Linked DNA regions of Homo sapiens: regions 1, 2 and 4 are each linked to region 3. Evidence: fine-mapped expression QTL. A gene starts in region 3. Each other region holds a variant in brackets. All regions are shown on one strand. Distances are from middle to middle.

What was found. PIP is the estimated chance that this variant, and not a neighbour inherited with it, causes the effect.
Region 1: its variant is the best candidate, but not a certain one, in a credible set for the expression of ENPP4 in tibial artery (GTEx, PIP 0.66).
Region 2: its variant is the best candidate, but not a certain one, in a credible set for the expression of ENPP4 in macrophages (Nedelec 2016, PIP 0.58).
Region 4: its variant is the best candidate, but not a certain one, in a credible set for the expression of ENPP4 in spleen (GTEx, PIP 0.80).

What each region holds. Positions count from the first base shown.
Region 1 is chr6:46,180,947-46,186,360 of GRCh38, forward strand. No RefSeq gene overlaps it. Among named protein-coding and RNA genes, the nearest start is that of ENPP5, 13 kb to the left of the region's middle. The variant A/C (reference allele first, on the strand shown) is at 2,703.
Region 2 is chr6:46,146,998-46,152,411 of GRCh38, forward strand. No RefSeq gene overlaps it. Among named protein-coding and RNA genes, the nearest start is that of ENPP4, 20 kb to the left of the region's middle. The variant T/TA (reference allele first, on the strand shown) is at 3,318.
Region 3 is chr6:46,126,863-46,132,276 of GRCh38, forward strand. It overlaps ENPP4 (ectonucleotide pyrophosphatase/phosphodiesterase 4), which reads left to right and starts at 3,127. Exons shown (of 4, transcript NM_014936.5): 1 at 3,127-3,327. It also overlaps a transcript of CLIC5 not described here.
Region 4 is chr6:46,165,240-46,170,653 of GRCh38, forward strand. ENPP5 (ectonucleotide pyrophosphatase/phosphodiesterase family member 5) reads right to left here. Exons shown (of 5, transcript NM_001290072.2): 2 at 4,814-4,875; 3 at 2,195-3,058; 4 at 148-324. The coding sequence starts at 3,023. Among named protein-coding and RNA genes, the nearest start is that of ENPP5, 3.0 kb to the right of the region's middle. The variant A/G (reference allele first, on the strand shown) is at 2,307.

The DNA of each region.
Region 1 (5,414 bases), 54 kb after region 3:
TTTCTAATTCACAAATTTATTCTTTAGCTGTTTCTATCCTTTCTTTATCCCACCTTTGGTGTAGTTTTTCAGCTATTATACCTCATATATTTTCATTTTTAATGATTTTTTATTCTTCTTCATATTACTAATAGCTTGTTACATCTCTTTAAGTATATTTATCATGTTTACATAAAATTCTTGTTCTATCTCTTTTAACACTTTTGTTTCAAATGGTATATCTTAAAGATTTTTGGATTTTTTGAGGTAGTTTTAAATTGCATTATTATTTTGGATTTTTAATTTAGATTTCTCTTTAAATGTTTTAATAAGTAGTGGGGAAGGGCTGAAGGCCAGGTCCTAGCCTAAGCTAAGTTATCCTGATCCAGTTAAGGATAAGTGAGGGTCTAATGCCTGAAGGCAGATGCTTATTCCTATAGACTATCTTGGGCAGATGCTTATTGCTATAGACTATCTTTCAAGATTCTCAAACTCCTATCCACAGATCTTTCCGCCATTTAAAATTAGTTCTTGTGTGTGGTGTGAAATAGAGTGTAAGTGCAAATAGGAGTCTAAGTTAAAGAAAAAATTTTTTAATAGCCAATTGTTCCAGTACAATTTTTAAAAGGTATTTTATTTGCTTTTAAATTGCTTTGGTTCCTTTATCATAAACAATTTGCTTTATAAGCATGGATCTATTTCTGGCCTCTCAATTCTAGCTCATTGACCTGTTTGTCTGTCTTCTTATCAATACTACATTGTCTTGATTACCAAAGCTTTGTAATAAGTCTTGAGGTGAGGTAGTGTGAGTTCTCCAACATTGCTCTTTCTCAAGATTGTTTTGACTATTTTAGGTCCTTTGCCTTTTCATATAAATGTTAAAATCAGCTTTTCTATGATCCTTTTTCTATCTATTATTTTTCTATAAAAATGCTGGTCTGGCATGTAATTGGGATGACAGCAGATCTACATACCAATTTAGGGAGAACATTCAAGCTTACAATATTAAGTATTCTGGTGCATGAACATGGGAAATGACTCCAGTTTTCAAAATGAGCAAATTGAGGTTTAGAAAGCCTAAATGATTTGATAGAGTTATAGACCTGAAAGCAGCAGAAGCTTTTTAAATCTATTTACAATTAATTGACTCACCAGAATGGCCTACACTCTTCTTTTCCTCTGCAAATCATATTAACTACTACCCCATGGCATTGTAAACTTTTTTGGCTAATCTATTTCTGTCTAACACGTCTGCTTCTGCCAGATAAATTTTAGACTTATCTAGAGTCAGTTGTGTTTTTTCCAGTATCTAGTTTTTGAAATAGTGTTTGTTGTTAGAATTAAATAATTTAAATAAAATACATTCTAACCTAGCGATTCCATTTTTGAAAAATTTATCCTGTCAGAGATGCACAAAAAGATTTTGGTATGACAATATTTATCATAGTCTTAATACTAATACTATTTGGTATTTTTATATGATGGCTACTATTCAGCCATTATAAACCACATATTCAAAGATTGTTTAATATGTGGGAATTCCTATGATAAAATATTTGAAGAGAAAAGCAGGATATAAATCTATACTGATGCTTTTTGACTTAAAGTGGGGTTACATACTGATAAACCCGTTATAAGTTGAAAATATCATAAGAGGAAAATGGATTTAATACATCTAGCCTACTCTACTTTAAATGTGCTCAGAACATTTATATTAGCCTATGATATAAGTGATTAGTTGGGCAAAATCATCTCTCAAATACTGTTTTGTAATAAGATAATGAATATCTCATGCAATTTGTTGAATACTGTACTGAAAGTGAAAAACAGAGTGTTTGTATGGGTACTTGAAGTATGGTTTATACTGAATGTGTTTCACATCTGTAACATCATAAAATCGAAGAAAAGTAACTCAAGGACCATCTGTACATGTATAGAAGAATCCTGGTATTTATAGTATTCCTGAATTTTCTACTCTTGCCTGTGTAGCTTCCTGTGATCTTTCTTGTTATTTCGGGGGCATATTTCCATAATCACCTCAATTCTCTGTGTAAGAGACACATATGGCAAGGATGGCATAAACACAAACACTGACTTTATACTCCTCCACCCCCAGTGACTTGGTCACAAGGCAATTCTGTTGTAATTGAACCGGGGTGGGCAGTGTGATGGGGGACTGGTGTAAGTCCTGGAATCCAAAGGCACAAAAGCATGAGAACCAGGAACTTCAATGTCCAAGGGCAGAAAGAGATGAATGTCCCAGTTCATAAAGACTGAAAAGAGGAAAATTGGCATTTCTCTGTCTTATGTTCTATTTGAGCCCTCATCGGATTGGAGATGCCTGCCCTCATTGGTGAGGGCAGATCTTCTTTTCTTACTCTAACAATTCAAAATGCTAATCTCTTCTGGAGATACTCTCACAGACACACCCAGAAAGAATGTTTCAGCAGCTACCTGGGCATCCCTTAGCCCAGTCAAGTTGACACATAAAATTAACCACCATACCCATAAAGTGCATTCGGAACTCTGACCTCATCCTATGCCTTTTAGATGCTATTCTCTCCCCCTCATGTCATGTTTTTTATTCTGCTGTGTAGTTTGTGAAAAACAATTTTCTTAACTCCCATAATTAAGGCCATTTCATGGCATTTAATTTCCCCTATGGGATCTTACCATCATTGGATAGAACATCCAGTGTGATGTGTTTTGTACCCTAGAACTGG[A/C]CATATAGATTTCTGTTTTTACAAGTGATGCTAGATAAATCCTGTGGCATTTTAGATAATGGCTATATGACCCTATTGGGAGCACCGTTTGCACTCAAATGATGAATTATCTTCCCCAATACAACTATGAGGAAATATCCCCCAAAATAAGCAGGACCAACTTTATTTCAGGATTCTCATGTCTCCTATTCATTTGTTCATAATTTTCCAGAGAAATTAGATTTATTATTTCAGTGCTTATAACATCAGAGTTAGAAAGATAGATAAAGAATCTATTCTTAGAGGAAGATAAAAATGAAATTGGGGCATAAGTAATGCTCACACATGAAAAGAGGTGAGTTATTCAGTACAGTCACTGGCTCTATAAGATAGAAGAAACCCCATGGGTACTATCTGATAAGGACTAAGTAAAGAAACCGGCAAAGATGAGTGCTTGTGAGTGTTTGATGGGACATGATGTGGGGTAAGTGGATTTGCTGTTGTATTTTCCCTACTGCTTTAGCTCTTAGGTTTCGCAAATATCTGTTATAAAGAAAAGTATAACTACAGTATAAATTCACCAAGGAGCCATGTGGAATCCCGAAAATGACCTGGATGTGATCCTCTGACTGCATTCCATTCGTATTCCTCCACACTGGCAGTATTCCAGGACCTGAAAAACATGACTTGCTGTGGAACTTGGCAAAATCCCCCTGGAGGAAGCTACTACTCATTGATTTAAAATGGACAGAAAAGCTGTTTCAAACACTTGCTTAAGCAGTTTTCCTCCTATTAATTTATCTACTTCTTACAATGATCCAGCGAAGTGGGTACCATCATCCATCTCATTTTATGTATGAAGAAACTGCCCTAGAGATATTAAACTAGTAATAGATATAAATTCTAACCTAGAAATTCCATTTAAAAAAATTTATTCTGTCAGAGAGGGGAACAAAGATTTTAGTATCACAATATTGATTATTGTCTTATTACTAATACTCCCCATTAAGAAACAACCTAAGTGTCTCAAAAAAAGAAATGATTAAGAGCATTTGGTATTTTTATATGATGGCTACTATTCAGCCATTATAACTTGCCTAGTTTACATAGCTAAGAGCTGTCAGAGCTGTGGTTTGAACCTAGGAATTTCTTTTTTGTAAAGTCCACACTTTTAACTATAGCCTGTCTCCAATCATATACAATACATCATATGATGTTAATAGCACAAAGAAAAATTTTAAAGAAATTTATTAGCTTGCATTTTATCTGTCTATTTACAGTGTTTTCTTGTTGCTTGAAATGACTAGTTCTCAATTTAGCAATATCCTGGGGATGAATTTAGGAATCCTATAGTCCCATTGCTACATATTTTACTTGGACTTACTACTTACAGCAAAAGACTAAAAATACAATAGGGCAAGATACATTATTCTCTGTTGTTAAGCCATGTAGTCCAGTGAAAAGAAAATCAGGAAATATAGCCTTAATTCCTTCTATGACATTTCCCCTCATTCCTGAGCAAGCATGGTGCTTCCAGAAAAGCAATCATATTCGCAGCTATAGATGAAGTAACATAGGAGAGAAATTTAGTCTGGATACTTCCTTGTGATGCTTTGCCTGACTATTTCCTTCAAAGTTTTAAGGACCAAACTCAGGAGTCCCTTCCTCCAGGAAGCCCCTTCCTCCCTCAGCTCTGCCTGATTATGTGCCACTCCTCCACACTCCCAGAGTGCTCTGCACTCTTCCATCCTTGCACTTGTTCTGTAATTGTTGGTTAATATGCCAAAGAACTGAGACTGAGCCTGATGAACTGTGCATGCCCCACAGCTTCCCAGTGAAGTTTACTAAATGAATGGATGAGTGAATGAGGGAATGTGGAGGACAGGAGGATGGAGAGATCCAGAGTTAAATTACCGTGTTAGGTTTTAAACTTTGGTATCTTCTGAGGACAAGGACTATGCTTCATTCATAGCACCAAGCTTGGCACATTAGCCTTGTTCAATGTTCTGAGATAACTGTTGTTTAATATGCGAGGATGAAACTGTCACTATGTTAAATAAGGTGTATATATGAATGGTTTGCCTCAGGTGGAAGCTATGCCTTCCCAACAGCTTTTCTACCAACTCTTTTTATTCTTAGTAAAAATATCTGAAATGTTTCCAGGATGAGAGGTTGACATGTTTGACAGAATGAATTTTGGAAAGAACAACTTATGTTTGGATAATAATGAATAGCCCAGTTCATCCTGTATCAAGTCCAGGTGGAGAAGCAGTGAGAGGAGAGATTAAAAAGACAATTGTGGAATGCTCTAATAGCCACTCAGGCTGACTAATTTGTATCTTGTTCTGGAGACAAAAAGGAACCAAAGAAAGCTGTTGAGTTATAAAGTAACAAGAGCACATATTTACTATAAAAGAGATTTTTTAAAAAGACATTTAAACGAGTTTATTATCTGTTTGAAATAAGGTGCTGGATTTGGTAACTCTATTGGTAACCACTTTATTTCACCCTAAGAAACGTCTCAGTGCTTGGCATATTGTAGGAACTCAATAAATATGAGTACATGAATGACATCAGAAAATTACCTAGTGCAATAAATAATAAGTAAATTCACCACTAAGTGTGGTGTCATGCACCTGTAGTCCCAGCTACTTGGGAGGCTGAGGTGAGAGGATTACTTGAGCCCAGGAATTGAAGCCCAGCCTGGACAACATAGTGAGAACCCCCCCCATG
Region 2 (5,414 bases), 20 kb after region 3:
ATGTTTAAACTTTGTACATAGCCATAGGCATTTAATGACTTGTCCAATTGAATATAGATTCAAGAATTCTCCTATTAGAGCAGTGATTAATTCATTTCCTATTTTTGTATTAAAAGAACTCTGCTAAGAATTGTAGGAAAACAAAAGAATAAATGGAACATTTTTTACTCTGAAAGAGAATTATTTCAAAAGTGGTAAAACTTTATTTATACCAACAAATTACCTATGTGTACTCATGGGTTAACTCTTGCTGCTGAGAGCCTTGTATCTAGAATCATTTTCCAGACCTTGTGCTTCCTGAGGTTCAGATGCTAATTTTGCCTCTTCCCCCAACTCCCAGCCTCCTTAGTGCCTATGTTTGGTTATTATTACATCCTTCTCACCCCATCCTCCACTAGTGTACTCACACACACATTCACAACCATTGCTTGAAAGAATATGTGAGAATCTAAATGATCCATCTGGGCTCTGGAGTCCTGTAACAGACATGCTGATCACAACATATATGTGTATGTGTGTATGTAAGTATATGTGTAAGTGTATATATATATGTATGTGTGTGTGTATACTATACATATATGTATGTATATACTAATATATATATGTACAGGCACATGTGTGTATAGTTCTATATTCTTATGTAATAACTATGTGTATATGTTGAAATGACTAGATCCTCTGACTCCTGTCCCATGGTCAAAATTACCTGGGAGGTAAATGCAGAGTCTATACCTAAAGAGTAAGCCAAACTGCTATGCAGGCTTTCTGTGTCCACGTATCTTTTTTTTATCCTTTTGACCTCTGAAATCTCATTTCCACCGTCAATACACAACCTGGTGAGCTCTTCCACTGACAGCTCCATGATGATGATTTACAGACATGTGTCTCCAGTCTAGACCTTCCTCTTCTGTTAAAGATACAAATTGCTATTAATTTAATCAGCATTACATTCATATCAACCATGCTCAATCTCACTTTCGTAGGCGAGTGGTGGAAAGGAGCAATAGAAATTAACCCCAAAACAAATCTAGAAAATTTCACTATATAAATAACCATTTTATAAAGGGGCTTCTATAGGTTAGACAGAGTACTATTGATTTACAAAATGTTTGAAATATCCACTGAGGAGAGTGAATATGTTTTTTACACTCGAAATTTCTGTGAAGATTCTCCCTCACTCCCCCTTTTTTTGTAATCTTAAAAAGACATGTTGGGTTCTGTATCCAGTAATGGTAGACTGTGTAATTCAAACCAGTGCTCTTACTGAGGACTAGAAAATCTGGACAAATAAAAGATTTGTGCTTATGCATTGAGGAATTTCCAGAAAGTGAAGAATGAAGAGGCTAGGATTTAGAAGGAAAAAAAAAACCCAATAAACATGAGTCCCTAATGGCATCTATGAATTGTGGAAGAGGCAGCTGAAAGGCTGAGAAGCTAACCTAATCAGAAGAGACTAGGAGCGGGTGATTGAAGGAGAGAAGGCACAGATGTAAATATATCTATTAAAATCATGCATCTGCACTATTTGGCACAAATTTGAAAATATAAATGAATAATTTCCTAGGAAAAAAATTATTGGATAAAACTGACTCCAGTAAAGAAAGAGAAAACAAAAACATACCAGTTTCTGTATTTAGGAAAAGGTTGAGGCAGTTATAGTGTATAAAAAAGTATCAGGCCTCAAAGACAATAATCCTTTTTTTTTAGTGACTCTGTCAGGCTTGGATATCAGTTTATATTTGCCTCAAAAAACTAACATTTTAGAAAATGAAGTATATTATTTTTAAGGTGAATAAAACTGATACTGAACTTGAAAAAATAGCACACAAAAAAACTATGGACCAATCTTGAATGAAAGAAACATTTTTCAAAAATGAAAATTAAACCACATCTGTAATTAGATGTAAATAGACTGAACATTCCAGTGAAAAGGCAGAGATTATCAAAGTAGATGAAAAAGCAATATCCAACTACATGTAGTCTACAAGAGAATCACTTTAAATACAAAGACACAAATTGAATTTTAAAAAAGGATAGAAAATAACATGCCATGGAAACTGTATTAGTCCATTATCACTCTGCTAATAAAGACATACCTGGGACTGGGTAATTTATACAAGAAAGAGGTTTAATTGACTCACAGTTCCACAAGGCTGAGGAGGCCTCAGGAAACTTACAATCATGGCGGAAGGGGAAGCAAATATGTCCTCTTCACATGGTGGCAGTAAGGAGAAGTGCAGAGCAAAGCAGCGAAAAACCCTTATAAAACCATCAGATCTGATGAGAACTCACTATCACGAGAACAGCATGGAGGTAACTGCCCCCATGATTCAATTACCTCCCACCAGATCCCTTCCACAACATGTGGGAATTGTGGGAACTACAATTCAAGATGAGATTTGGGTGCAGACACAGCAAAACCATATCAGAAACTAACCATAATAAATATATACATATTGATATCAGAAAAAGTAGTCTTCAAGACAATAATTTTCAGGAACAGAGAGATTTCATTAATGTACAAGGACCAATATGTAAGGAAAGCATGACAATTCTAAAAGTGTTCATACCTAAAAACAGCTTAAAAACACATTAATCAAAAACTGATGGAACTAAAGAGAATTCGTAAACATAATTGAAGAATTTAGCACTCCTCTCTAAGTCGTTGATACACCAACCACACCAAGAAAAAAAGACAATAAAGATACAGAAGACTTGAGTGATTTTATTAACCACCTTGACTTAAATGAGATTTAGAGGAGATTACAGCTCCAAACTGCAAAATATATTATTTTTATAAGTATACATTGAAGAATTACCAAGTTTGGCCATACACAGGACCAGAAAACAAGTCTCAGTAAATAATCTCAAAGAACTGCAATTTTACAAAGTATGTTTTCTGACCACAATGGAACGAGGGTCAATAACAATACAATTCAGAAAATCCTTAAATATTTGGAAATTAAACAATACAATACACTTCTAAATAACTTATGAGAAAAATAAAAATAAGGCAAATAAAATATTTGGAAATGAATGATCATAAATATGTAGCACTAAAATCTATAGTATGCAACTAAAGCATTAGAGGAAAATTTGCAGCTTTGAATGCCTATCTTAAGAGAGGCTGAAGGGTTCAGAATCAATGATTACAGCCTTCGCTTTAGGAAAACAGTAAAAGGAGGAAATAATCCAAAGTCAGTGGGAGGAAGGATATAATAAAAATAAGATCCAAATTAATGAAATCGTGAAGAGAAAAAATAATAAAGTGAAAATTTATTTTTTAAAAACATACTAGTAAAATTGGTAAGATGACC[T/TA]AAGAAAAAAGGGAGATAGCAGAAACTGGCAATATCAGTAATAACAGAAGCGCCATCACTGCAGATCCTACATATGTCAAAAAGATAATACAGAATATTATGCCAATGGATTTGACAATTTACATAATAATGGATAAATTCACCGAAAAATGCAACTTACCAAACAAATAAAAAATGTGAATAGCTTTATATCTATCAGACATTAATTTATAAAAAAATCCTTATAAAGAAAACTTCAAGTCCAGGTGTTTCACTGATTAGTTCATCACACATTTGATGAAGAAATGATACCAGTTTTACATAAATTCTTATGGAAAATAGAAGACGAAGGAACACGTTTTATTTATTTGTTTGTTTGTTTATTTATTTATTTATTTATTTATTTATTTATTTATTTGACAGAGTCTCTCTCTGTCACCAGGCTAGAGTGCATTGGTGCGATCTCGGCTCACTGCTACCTCCGCCTTCCCGTTTCAAGCAATTCTCCTGCTTCAGCCTCCTGAGTAGCTGGAACTACAGGCACGTGCCACCACGCCCAGCTAATTTTTGTATTTTTAGTGGAGACGGGGTTTCACCATGTTGGCCAGGATGGTCTCCATCTCCTGACGTCGTGATCTGCCCACCTCGGCCTGCCAAAGTGCTGGGATTACAGGTGTGAGCCACCTCGCCCAGCCAACATATTCTTTTTATAAGGCCAGTATAACACTGGTACAAAAACGTGAAAAAATATATTAAAAGACCAGTATTCTTATGAACAAAAATACTTAACTAAATATTATCTAATTGAATTCAGTGGTAATTCAAAAGGATAATGCACATGAATAAGTGGAGTTTACTACAGGGCACAGAATTGTTTTGATCATTGAAAATCAATCAATGTTATGCTGTATACTAATAGAAAAAAAGGAACACATTATCAAGTCAATGAATGTGGAAAAGTATTTGGCAAAATTCAACACCTATTTATTAGTTGAACAAACTGATTAAATTTGGAATAGAAGGAAACTTCCACCAGCTGATGAATGCCATCTATTAAAAAAAAACAAAAACAAAGCCAAAGCTAATATACTGAATGATGAAATAGCAAATGTTCCTCTCCTGGGATCAGGAACAGGGCAAGGATGTCCACTCTCACCACTTATATTTAACATTGTACTGCAGGTCCTAGCAAGTGCAATAAGGAAAGCAAAAGAAGTAAGTATTGGAAAATAAAACTCATATTCACAAATGCATGATAGTATACATAAGAAATCCAACAATCTACAGATAAACTCTGAGTTTAAAAAATGGCTAGATATCAGGTCAATATACAAAAATCAAGTGTATTCCTATATCTCAGCAGAAAACAATTAGAAAAGGAAAATTTTAAACTCATATTATTTACATTGCTATCAATAAGCATGGAATATTTGGGAATAAGTCTAACAAAATACATGCAGAATCTTTGCACAGAAAATTATAAAGGAGTTAAGGGAGACCAAAATAAATAGAGGGCTATATCATGTTTGTAGGTTGGAAGGTTAAATATTATAAAGATGGCAATTCTTCCCAAACTGATAATTGCATCCAAGTAATTTCAGCAGGGTTTTATTTGTTTTTTTATGGAACTGCAGAAGCTGACTGTAAAATTTGTGTAGAAATGCGAAGAGCCAAGACAATTTTGAAAAAAATAAAATGGTAGGACATACTCTATCAGGTGTCAGGAATAATTCTAAAAATATAATAAGAGAGTATAGTATTGACCCAAGGATTAAAAAATAGATAAACAGAATTAATCACCTTTGTTAAAATCAAGAATCCATACATCTGTGGGTGTATTAGACTTCTCTTGTATACCCTCAAACGCAGTCAATATACTCTTACTCCAGTTTTATTTTGGCTTTGGCTAGCTTCCCACAGATGCAACCTGACAATGCTTAGCCTCTTTCTTCTTGGCCCAGACATGACTGGCCTGAACACTAAAGTGGTGAGTGCCTCTAAGATCATACTTGGCACTTGGGCATGCACTTTTCAAGAAATATAGGGAGTTGATGCCCATGGGGCCATGTAAAAGTACAATGAGAAGGCAGCTGTCTGCAACCCAGGAAGAGAGCCCTC
Region 3 (5,414 bases):
GCCAGCAATGAGTTATACATCACAATTAGGAGTATAAAAGAGAAATAATTGTATAGAGAGCTATGTCTTAAATTTTGAAAACAGGATAAGATTTTTAAAATATTTTGTGTTAATGAATAAATGTTCAGTCTTGAGCGTAGTTCATGGGAGAAAAAGAAACTGCCTTTGACATGCTGCTTCCAAATCTGACATTGCCCCATAGAGGCAAATGCTCTAGTTGTACTTAGTTTTTGTGTATTGATAAATAATATTTCTATACATTTATAGGGCAGATGTGATATTTTGTTACATGCATTGAACGTGTAACAATCCAGTCAGGGTATTTAGGGTATCCATTACCTCGAGTATTTATCATTTCTATGTGATGGGAACATTTCAAGTCCTGTCTTCTAGCTATTTTGAAATATAAAATACATTTAACTATAGTCACCCTACTCTCCTATCAAACATTAGAATATATTTCTTCTATCTAACTGTATGTTTGCTCAGTCATTTCTCTGTGGGGTATATTCATTTGTAAATAATAAGTTTAGACTATTGCCTCTAATTCATTTCAATCTCTAACATAAAATGGGTTTAAAGGCTCTCTATATTTCCAAAATTTATATAAAATTCCCTTTGCAAAAGCTGAGCTGAAAGAACATTATAAATGAATATTATTTTGCCTACCTAAATAAAACAACACTTATGCCTAAAAATCACATTGTAAATAAGAAATTTATGTTACTATTATGTTTTCTTTTATTATCATTAAAGTTCTACAATGAAACTATAGTGAACTTTGTGGCCGGCTTCCCAGCACCCATTCCAACTCATTTCCATTGAGAAAAAAAGTAAAGTTTGGGTGAGACCTCAGTTTAAGATGTGGACTGCATTGGTCTACAGGTAACCATATCCTTTGCTGGCTTAGATTTGGATATGTGACACAATTCTGTCCAAAGTGATTAAAGGAGACAGTTGCTGAAGACTTCTAAGAGACAGAAGAAATCTAGACGTCATTTCTATCACCCAGTGGAAGTGAAAAATGAATTACATGGTTCCTGTTGCTGCTGGTAGTTATATTTACCACTAAAGGAACCAGAAGTCTACTCTGTTAAAAGCCAAGTGTAAAGCTGCAAAGAACTGAGTACATTATGAAATCGTTGAGTTGCTAACTCAACCAGTCCTGAAGTCTGCCTTACCTCTGGACTTCTTGTTCCACAAGACGATAAATATCCTTACTATAACAGGATTTTGGTTGTGGTTGAAATGGTAAATATATAGAGGATAACAAAAGTTTAGGGCCAAAGGTCCTTATGTGTCATTTTGTCCCTCTGTTCCTGACCACTTTATCTTACAGAGCAAGAGCCCAGGTGGCATGAGACTCCCTAATTTAACCCAGCCACACAGGCAGTAGCAGTGGATAAAGAGAGTCCTCTCCTGATGCCCATCCAGCTGCTATCTTCACCACACATCTGACCTAGATGGCATTCAGTTTTGTCCACCCTTTAAGCATACATATGCACCTACTGAATGAACAAACAGGATATGCACAATACCCCCAAATGCCACAAAATTTAAGTTCTGCTAATCTTAAATGTTATGTCATTGGACATTACCTAAATTCCCCCAAAACTTGGCCTTACCCTGACTATTGTTCAAATTGGGGTACTTTTTTGGTCATAATGATAATAATCCCCAAAACAACATGTGTCAGATACTGTGCTGAATACTCTACTCGCTTTCCTCATTCATTTGATAGTAAGAGGTTGGTATTGTAACAAGACGCGTTTTGCAGATGAGGAAATGAAAGCTCAAATAGGTTGAGACACTGGCCCATGATTGCTCTGCTGGTGAGTGACAGAGTGAGTATTCAAACCAGGTTCTAGGGTCTGCAGGTTCTAGGGATTCAGCTACAGACCCACTACCATCCCCTCCAGCTCTGAAAGCCCATGGATCTAAGATGCCCATATTCACCAATGCACAGGCCAACCTGAGACTTAAAACTGGAATTAATTTATCAAGGCACAAACTAATAATCAACGGAATACATCTATTGCCAAATCATCTCCATGGCTGCTTCCAGATTGTTGGTAATAGCTATACTGTAAGGTTCAGACCAAGGGGACCAACGTCAGAATTTGTTATCTAAGGTCCAGTACTGCAGTTTACTAATCCAGGTACTGGATTTACAGCTATTAAATACTTAACACTTGAGGATATCACATGTGATTAATATTCTTAATTTATTTGTACTTTTTATTTGAGCTGGAGATACAGTAGTGAACAAGAAAGAAAATACCTTCTGGAGCCTGCATTTTAACAAGCGGGACAATTAAATTCAATAGTGATTTAGCAAGTACTTCTATACCAAGTTCTGTTTGGCACTACAGATAAAAAGAAAAAAGATGCTATCCTCTCACTGCCAAGTGTGCCTGGACAACCCAACTGTTAGCGAATAATTCTACTTCTGTTTGGTAACTGCTCTTTATGTTGGAAAGTTTAGTTACATTATTCTATTAAATAACCTTCCAATTAAAAGCAGGAGCACAATCCCACATACGCGTCTGTCAAAGTAAGCACCCATTTCTCAGCTGTAACTCATTACTGGTTCCCTGCCGCAGGCACTGTGCTGCTTTTAACCTTACTTGTAAACTATTACCTAACTTCCCCGGTAAAGGTGCTCGCTTATCCAGTAAGACGGACAGACGTCTATGGTAGATCCACGTTTCATTTATCCCAACTCACTGGAACTGGCTGAAGCTTCTCCAGACTTGTGCCGGACCTTGGTGCAGCCAAAGTTGCTTTCTCCGCGGCCACCTAAGCTGCCAGGTGCACATTAACTAAGTGGCAGAAGGCCATCGGCTTGGCAATTGCCTGAGGCCTTTCCGGGACTCGCTGGTTTTTAGGTTCCATGAAGGGCATCCAGATCTAGGATGATACGAAAAGTGCGTGGTGGGAGAGTGGAATCAACCTCTACTCTTAGGTCCGATACAACCCCTCCAAGCACCTGTCTAACCAATCGGAAAGAAAGTTACATTCAACGCTGGTTCTAGCATCCAATCCAAGGACGTGTTTCAGACTCTGCTGCCCGGTCCCAGCCAGCCCTGAGCTGGCGCCTTAGACGCTCGCCTGGCAGCTGCGCACACTCGGAGCGCCCCGAGCGGCGCAGATAGGGACGTTGGGGCTGTGCCCCGCGGCGCGGCGCCTGCCACTGCGCAGGCGCCTCAGGAAGAGCTCGGCATCGCCCCTCTTCCTCCAGGTCCCCCTTCCCCGCAACTTCCCACGAGTGCCAGGTGCCGCGAGCGCCGAGTTCCGCGCATTGGAAAGAAGCGACCGCGGCGGCTGGTGAGTACGCGCCTCGCGCGCTCGGCGTTCTGGGGGGCAATGTCACCCCCTCTCCAGTCCCCTAGGGGCTTTGAAAATAGAGATGGTGAGACCAGACCCTATGACCCACTCTCCCCCACTACACGCACATCCCCTGGGGCGCGGCGGGGACGTCCACGAAGGGACTCAAAGAGCCAGGGAGGTGGCGGGCCGAGGCGGAGGCCAGGAAGGGAAGAGGAAAGAAAAATTAGCAGGTGCTGGGGAAGGCAACCTGTGGTGTTAAGTGTGAAGGGAGGGAAGTCAGCCGAACGGTAGTGGAGGAACCTAAGGTGGGTCTGGGGTAAAATTGAGGGGAGCTGGGGCGGGGTCGCCAGGCTTTTGGTTTTAAAGGAGAACCACCCATGGCATCGACATCCGTCTGTCTGAATATTAGATTAGAGTTTATGTTAATTATAGATAATGATATTTAAGAACTAATTTCCTGGAAAACAAGCCAACCAAACAATAAAAGGTACATTTAAGTGCCTTTTTAAAGGGCTGGATTAAAAGCACGTAAGGACTTAAAAACAATGCTTCCTTTTCTTGTCACAACCACCCTATGAGATCATAGCATTCCCATTTTACAGATGACGAAAGTCAGGCTCAGAGAAGTGAAGGGACGCGTCCAACCAAGATTGTACAACTAGTGACAGGCAGATTCAGGTTTACACCAGATCTGACTCCAGAAGGGCTTTGCTTAATCAGGCAATCTTGTGGACCCAAGTCTGAAGGAAGATTTGCCAACTACTGTGAAATATCAACTGCTGGTTTCAGTATTATGAGCTTCTATTTCTTCTTTTTTCCCCTCAGAGATTGTTTCAATCTGTTTTAAGGAAATTAAGAGGCCTGCTGCACTTGTGCGTCTTCCCCCCACCTCCACTTAAATTAGTTACAGGATATAATTTGGAAGACATTTTTTTTTATGGTCTCAGGTCTTAGATTTATTTATTTATTAATTATTATTATTATACCTTAAGTTTTAGGGTACATGTGCACAATGTGCAGGTTAGTTACATATGTATATATGTGCCATGCTGGTGCGCTGCACCCACTAACCCATCATCTAGCATTAGGTATATCTCCCAATGCCATCCCTCCCCCTTCCCCCCACCCCACAACAGTCCCCAGAGTGTGATGTTCCCCTTCCTGTGTCCATGTGTTCTCATTGTTCAATTCCCACCTATGAGTGAGAATATGCAGTGTTTGGTTTTTTGTTCTTGCGATAGTTTACTGAGAATGGATTTCCAATTTCATCCATGTCCCTACAAAGGACATGAACTCATCATTTTTTATGGCTGCATAGTATTCCATGGTGTATATGTGCCACATTTTCTTAATCCAGTCTATCATTGTTGGACATTTGGCTTGGTTCCAAGTCTTTGCTATTGTGAATAATGCTGCAATGAACATATGTGTGCATGTGTCTTTATAGCAGCATGATTTATAGTCCTTTGGGTATATACCCAGTAATGGGATGGCTGGGTCAAATGGTATTTCTAGTTCTAGATCCCTGAGGAATCGCCACACTGACTTCCACAATGGTTGAACTAGTTTACAGTCCCACCAACAGTGTAAAAGTGTTCCTATTTCTCCACATCCTCTCCAGCACCTGTTGTGTCCTGACTTTTTAATGATTGCCATTCTAACTGGTGTGAGATGATATCTCATTGTGGTTTTGATTTGCACTTCTCTGATGGCCAGTGATGGTGAGCATTTTTTCATGTGTTTTTTGGCTGCATAAATGTCTTCTTTTGAGAAGTGTCTGTTCATGTCCTTCGCCCACTTTTTGATGGGGTTGTTTTTTTCTTGTAAATTTGTTTGAATTCATTGTAGATTCTGGATATTAGCCCTTTTTCAGATGAGTAGATTGTGAAAATTTTCTCCCATTTTGTAGGTTGCCTGTTCACTCTGATGGTAGTTTCTTTTGCTGTGCAGAAGCTCTTTAGTTTAATTAGATCCCATTTGTCAATTTTGGCTTTTGTTGCCGTTGCTTTTGGTGTTTTAGACATGAAGTCCTTGCCCATGCCTATGTCCTGAATGGTAATGCCTAGGTTTTCTTCTAGGGTTTT
Region 4 (5,414 bases), 38 kb after region 3:
GATAAGTACGAAAACATTGTAGTTCCTTAATATTCAAGTAACAGACAGTAAAAATATCAATCAATAAACTGCTGTATTATGTATTTAAACTGTTGTATTTTAGCAAAAAGTAATGCAGAATGGAAAGAAATACTGTAACATACTCACACAGAAAGTCATCTGACTTATTCTGTAAAATGTGCCACCCTTCATCAGCCACTGCTATGATTGGTTGAATTCGACTGTTGTATTTGTAATGCCACCTTTCTGGAACGTCTTCTTTTTTGTAAACAGTAAGATTAGGATGAGCGTGAGTTAGTGCTTCATAGACTTCATCAAATTTACCTAAAGAGAAGGGAGGAGAGGCACTCAGAACAAAATACTCATAGCTACCATCAGCCATGGGCAACAGACTTGCTACGGAGGTGAAAAACCAGAGAGCTGAACATAAGAAAAAATTCTTTTTCCCCTTGGGGAAAACAATTTTGGGAGGGGAAACTAGGAAATAATCTTCTGTTGTAAGTTCACCTTATAGAATTAAGGAAGGGCATTTTATAGAACCAGAAACCTCTAAAGACTTCAATACACACACATATTAATTAGTGACACTATGTAAAATGTCTAGGGTACTGCAATACCCAAATAAAAATGGCTAGGTTCTGGTAGTTGTGAGTGCAGACACGAAGAATCTCCAGACAAGAAAACATGGTGAGGGGTGGGTGAGGGCTGGGAAAAGAGGCTGGAGGTGGAAAGCAGTTTGTAAAATGGAAACATCTGAAAACACTGGAGGTGTTGCCAAAGTACTCCCTATAACTACAAATGCGGTTACCCAGGCACTGTCTTTCATCCTCCTGTTTTTCAAATCCATTGCTGAGGTTGCATCCTTATCTTCTGCACCGCAACAAGAGGACATCATTCCAATTTTATAAAGGAAATCGAAGGGTTAATGTAATTTTCTCCCCTTCCATTTCCTCTTCCCTTCCCTCTTCCCTTCCTCCTTCCCTCCCTCCTCTCTCTCTCTTTCACCCCCTTCTCTTCCCTCCCTCTCTCTCTCTCTTTCCCCCTCAGTCTCTCTTTTTCTTTCTTTTTTTTCTTTCGACTGTGTCTCCCTGTCGCCCAAGGAGGAGTGCAGTGATATGATCATAGCTCACTGTAACCTAGAACTCCTGGGCTCAAGCAACCCTTCCACCTCAGCCTGGGACACAGGCATGTGTCACCACACCAGGCTATTTTTTTTTTTTTTTTTTTTAGCAACAGAGTCTTGCTATGTTGCCCAGGCTGGCCTCAAACTCCTGGCCTCAAGTGACCCTGCTGCCTCAGCCTCCCAAAGTGCTGAGATTATAGGCGTGAGCAACCACTCCTAGCTAATTTTCTTAAACCAGAAAAAAAGTGCTGTTTGCTGAAAACTGTGTGTGTAAAACACACACATATTTTAACATTCGCTGTTTCATATGATTCTAATTCCCCTCTGAGGGATGGAATTCTCATTTGTGAAATATTATAGCTTTTCAAAATCTGTTCTCTCATTTGATACCTAAGACCAACCCTGCAAAGTGATAAAATATGTCAAAGAGCATGTCTGAGTCATGTTGTCACTTATTTTGTGACCTCAGGATGTTAAACCTTTTGAGGTCACTTACCTGTCATTTACTTCTCTTTAAAATGGAGACAATACTGAGGTGACAGGTTTGGTATAAGGATTCCAGGAGAGGTTTGTAAAAAGTTTAAGGTATTGTTATTACTTTCCACATTTATAAGGAAAATAAACCTCAGATTGACCAAAGCTCTTTCTCCTTCTTATCTTCCACAGCTTCCTTGTTAAGCAGGTCCAAATTAGGAACCTATAAAAGGCTTTGGGGCTTCTATGAAATAACTGTACATGCATTCAAGTTTTGTATGTATCTTTCCATCTCAATTTTTCTGAGAAGGGAGGCTATAGCTTTCATAATATTCTATGGATCCAAAATGGTTAAAACCTACTGCCATACATACATAGAGCACATCAATTTCAGTATTCTAGGAAAAAGGAAAAAAAAATTAGGCTTTGAAAAAAGAGATTTTGTCTTTTCAGAGTCTGAGGATTAAATCCCAGAATATTACCATGACACAGGCAAAGTCTACTTTAAAGGCGCAGCAACAGAAATCCCTGTTCATTTGATCACACTGGGCAAATGCACATCTAGTCTCAGCTCACCATTCATTCAGTCAGCCTTACCTTCTTTTGGCAAGATGGCTGCTACTGGAGATTGATCAATCAGGGTATAGTGGTCTTTATCCAGGTACTGGTCAAGTTCTATTAACCTTTCCTCAGAGCACTGCGTCATTCC[A/G]TGATCACTTGTGATGATTAGGTTCAGAGTGTTCCACAACTTTGCCTTTTTCAGCATTTGTATGAGATATCCTAACTTCTTGTCAATATCTGAAATGACAGGCCCCATGAGCGGACTGTCAGGTCCCAAATGGTGGCCCATGTCATCAGGGTCTTCCCAATAGAGAAGACCAAGATTTATGGGCTCTTTTGACGTAAACCATTCAATAATTTTGGCAACTCTATCTTCAAATGAAACTGACTCATTGTAAGGCATGTAATGAGTAGGAAAGCGCTTATGTATTTTTACATCTGTTCCGGGCCACATGGCTGCACCACTAGTATGTCCTGCCCTCTGGTTTGTGATCCATATTGGTGTCGCTTCTTCCCAAAACTTGGAATCATAAATATTCATGTGATCCAAGGAGAAAGATTTGTTCCGAATAGGATCAAACATATCATTTGCAACAATCCCATGATTCTCTGCAAAGAGGCCAGTTACCAAAGTATAATGGTTAGGGTAGGTTTTTGTAATAAAAACATTAGTAACTTGCTTCACGTGAACACCATATTTCATAATATAATGAAAATGGGGCGTTGGAACTTTATATAAGTAATCCCAACGGAATCCATCAAAAGAAACTAGTAGAACCTTTTGCTGGTCTGGTTGGAGAGAAAAGGTGGTTGAAAGACTCAGTGCAGCAAGTATGAAGGACACCAAGAGAAATTTCGAAGTCATTTTCAAAGTACTTGATCAGTTCAGTGTAAGATAATCTGTAGAATAAACATATAGAAATTAAAGGCAATAATTTTGTTTTGTATACTTTACCCCAAACTCAGAGTAACAGTGCTTAGCAATCCTAGTTATATTCATAAATCACAGCCTGGAAGAATTATGTCACAGAACTCCGTATTAGATAAGAGACCTGGGGCTAAATGAATAATAAAGCTAATAAGTTTAGCTGCATTTAAACAACTTTTTCACTTCTGAGAATTTATCTAAATATCCCTCAAAGGAATTATTTAAGTGAGCTCTTCAACAGCATTTTAAAATATGACATCATTTACATAAAACTTTTAGAAACATTTTCAGGTTGATCCAGACTTTTGACTTCTGGTCAGAAACTTTTTTATAGTCAAATACCTGTGAACATCCTTAACATTATGGCTAGAGCAACTATGGCAACCTAGCAACAATGAAGTATCATTAGCAAATCGAATAATGGTGCATATACATATATATTATATATATATGTATATGCACACTTCTATTTTCAACCCCTATGTTTGGTTAATCACAGACAAAAGATGTATTACTAAAGAGAGAGGAAAATAGATGAATTTGGTTTCTTGAAGTGAAATAACATTTGTGACATCCAGATATATTTATTGAAAAGTAATCTGCATTCATTTATTAATAATCAAATCACAGCATTCGTTGAACTAAATAATTAGATTCTAAACTAAATATTAACAGAAATATAATTCTGAAATTTGTTGTTGACTTTCCTAATGTTAAAATTTGTCAAAATTTAATCTTATCATTGATAGGTGTAGTAAAAGCACTTCCCTGGTTTAAAGCTCTGTGAATCAAGGTTGCTGGTCTTTTCCCCTAATCTGTGTATATTTCTAAAATACTTTCATTCTATTGAAGAAAGCTAATAAGACGCTGTATGGATAAACAATAGATATGTAAATTTTGTCAGTTTTCATCAGGCGTGCACATCCAGCAGGGATCTTTTGTTCTCTCATTTTTCTACCCATTCCTGCATGAAGGTATTTATAAACCCACCAAAACTTAGATCAAACCACACTTGTACAAATAAATCTCTTGAAACTGCCTTTTGATATCTTCCTAAGCTGAAGACTTCTTTTTTTTTTTTTTTTGAGAGGGAGTCTCACTCTGTTGCCCAAGCTGGTGTGCGGTGGCACGATCTCAGCTTACTGCAACTTCCGCCTTCCGTGTTCAAGCAATTCTCCTGCCTCAGTCTCCCAAGTAGCTGGGACTACAGGCGCCCGCCACCACACCCAGCTAATTTTTGTATTTTCAGTAGAGACAGGGTTTCGCCATGTTGGCCAGCCTGGTCTCAAAACTGCTGACCTCAGGTGATTCACCCTTCTCGGCTCCCCAAAGTGCTGGGATTACAGGCATGAGCCACCGCAGCCGGCCTGAAGACATTTTTAAACTTCAAAAATATATCCTGTTTCACCTTGCTGTATTATAGGTACAGGTAAATAAAAACTACTTGGCATGCTTGCTTTGCTTTCAGAAATACAAGGTATATGTACATTGTGGGTATTCGCTGAGGGCAATAAATTCTGTTTTGCTGGTTTTAAACTGTGTTTTCACCATACCTAGACATTTCTTAAACTGAAATTGTTTTAGGTATTGGTCTCAAGATGATAGCTCAAATGTCATATTTAAAAACGATTTCTTGGATGGCAATACTCTCTCTGATTCTGGAAGGAACATTAAACACAGTTGCAGCAAGGAATAGCAAATAGGTTACTGCAAATATATTTACTCACCTATCTGGCTATGGATGGTAGTTGCTCTCTCTGTCCTTTCTCCCCCTAATTTTCTCTCCCACCTTTTTAAAACAAGGAAGGCTAGTATCAACCAAATGTAATTTAAGGCTAAAAGCAGAGGAAATAAACTACATGGAACACCTCATTTTCATCTATCTTAGCAAATTAATTCGGCACATGTGTAAGCAGGAGAAAACTGCTTTCTTGGGACCAACAAAAGTAAGCAAAGATTAAGTGTTGTCTAAAGCTTAGGAATGTTTGGCAAGAAGACTCAACATCACATCCATGACACAGAGCAATAAACAGAGGTGGGGGGTGGGGAATGAAAACAATCAGAATTTTTTTTTTTTTCGTGCACAAAATGCTGCACAAAACAGTGGAATCCCTGGATCTGGCTCCACATTTCATTGAGTACTTTCCAGTTCTTTCTCCCCTCCAACCCTTCCTCCACAAACAGACTTGGAGAGCAGGAAGGACGGGGCACCGATTAAACGGAAGAGGGAAAGTGCAGAAGGAGTAGGTTTGTGTAGCTCGGGTAGACGTCAAGGGCGGGGGTGTCCATCTTCTCCACCAGGATTCCATCCTAGCCACCCAGAATGGT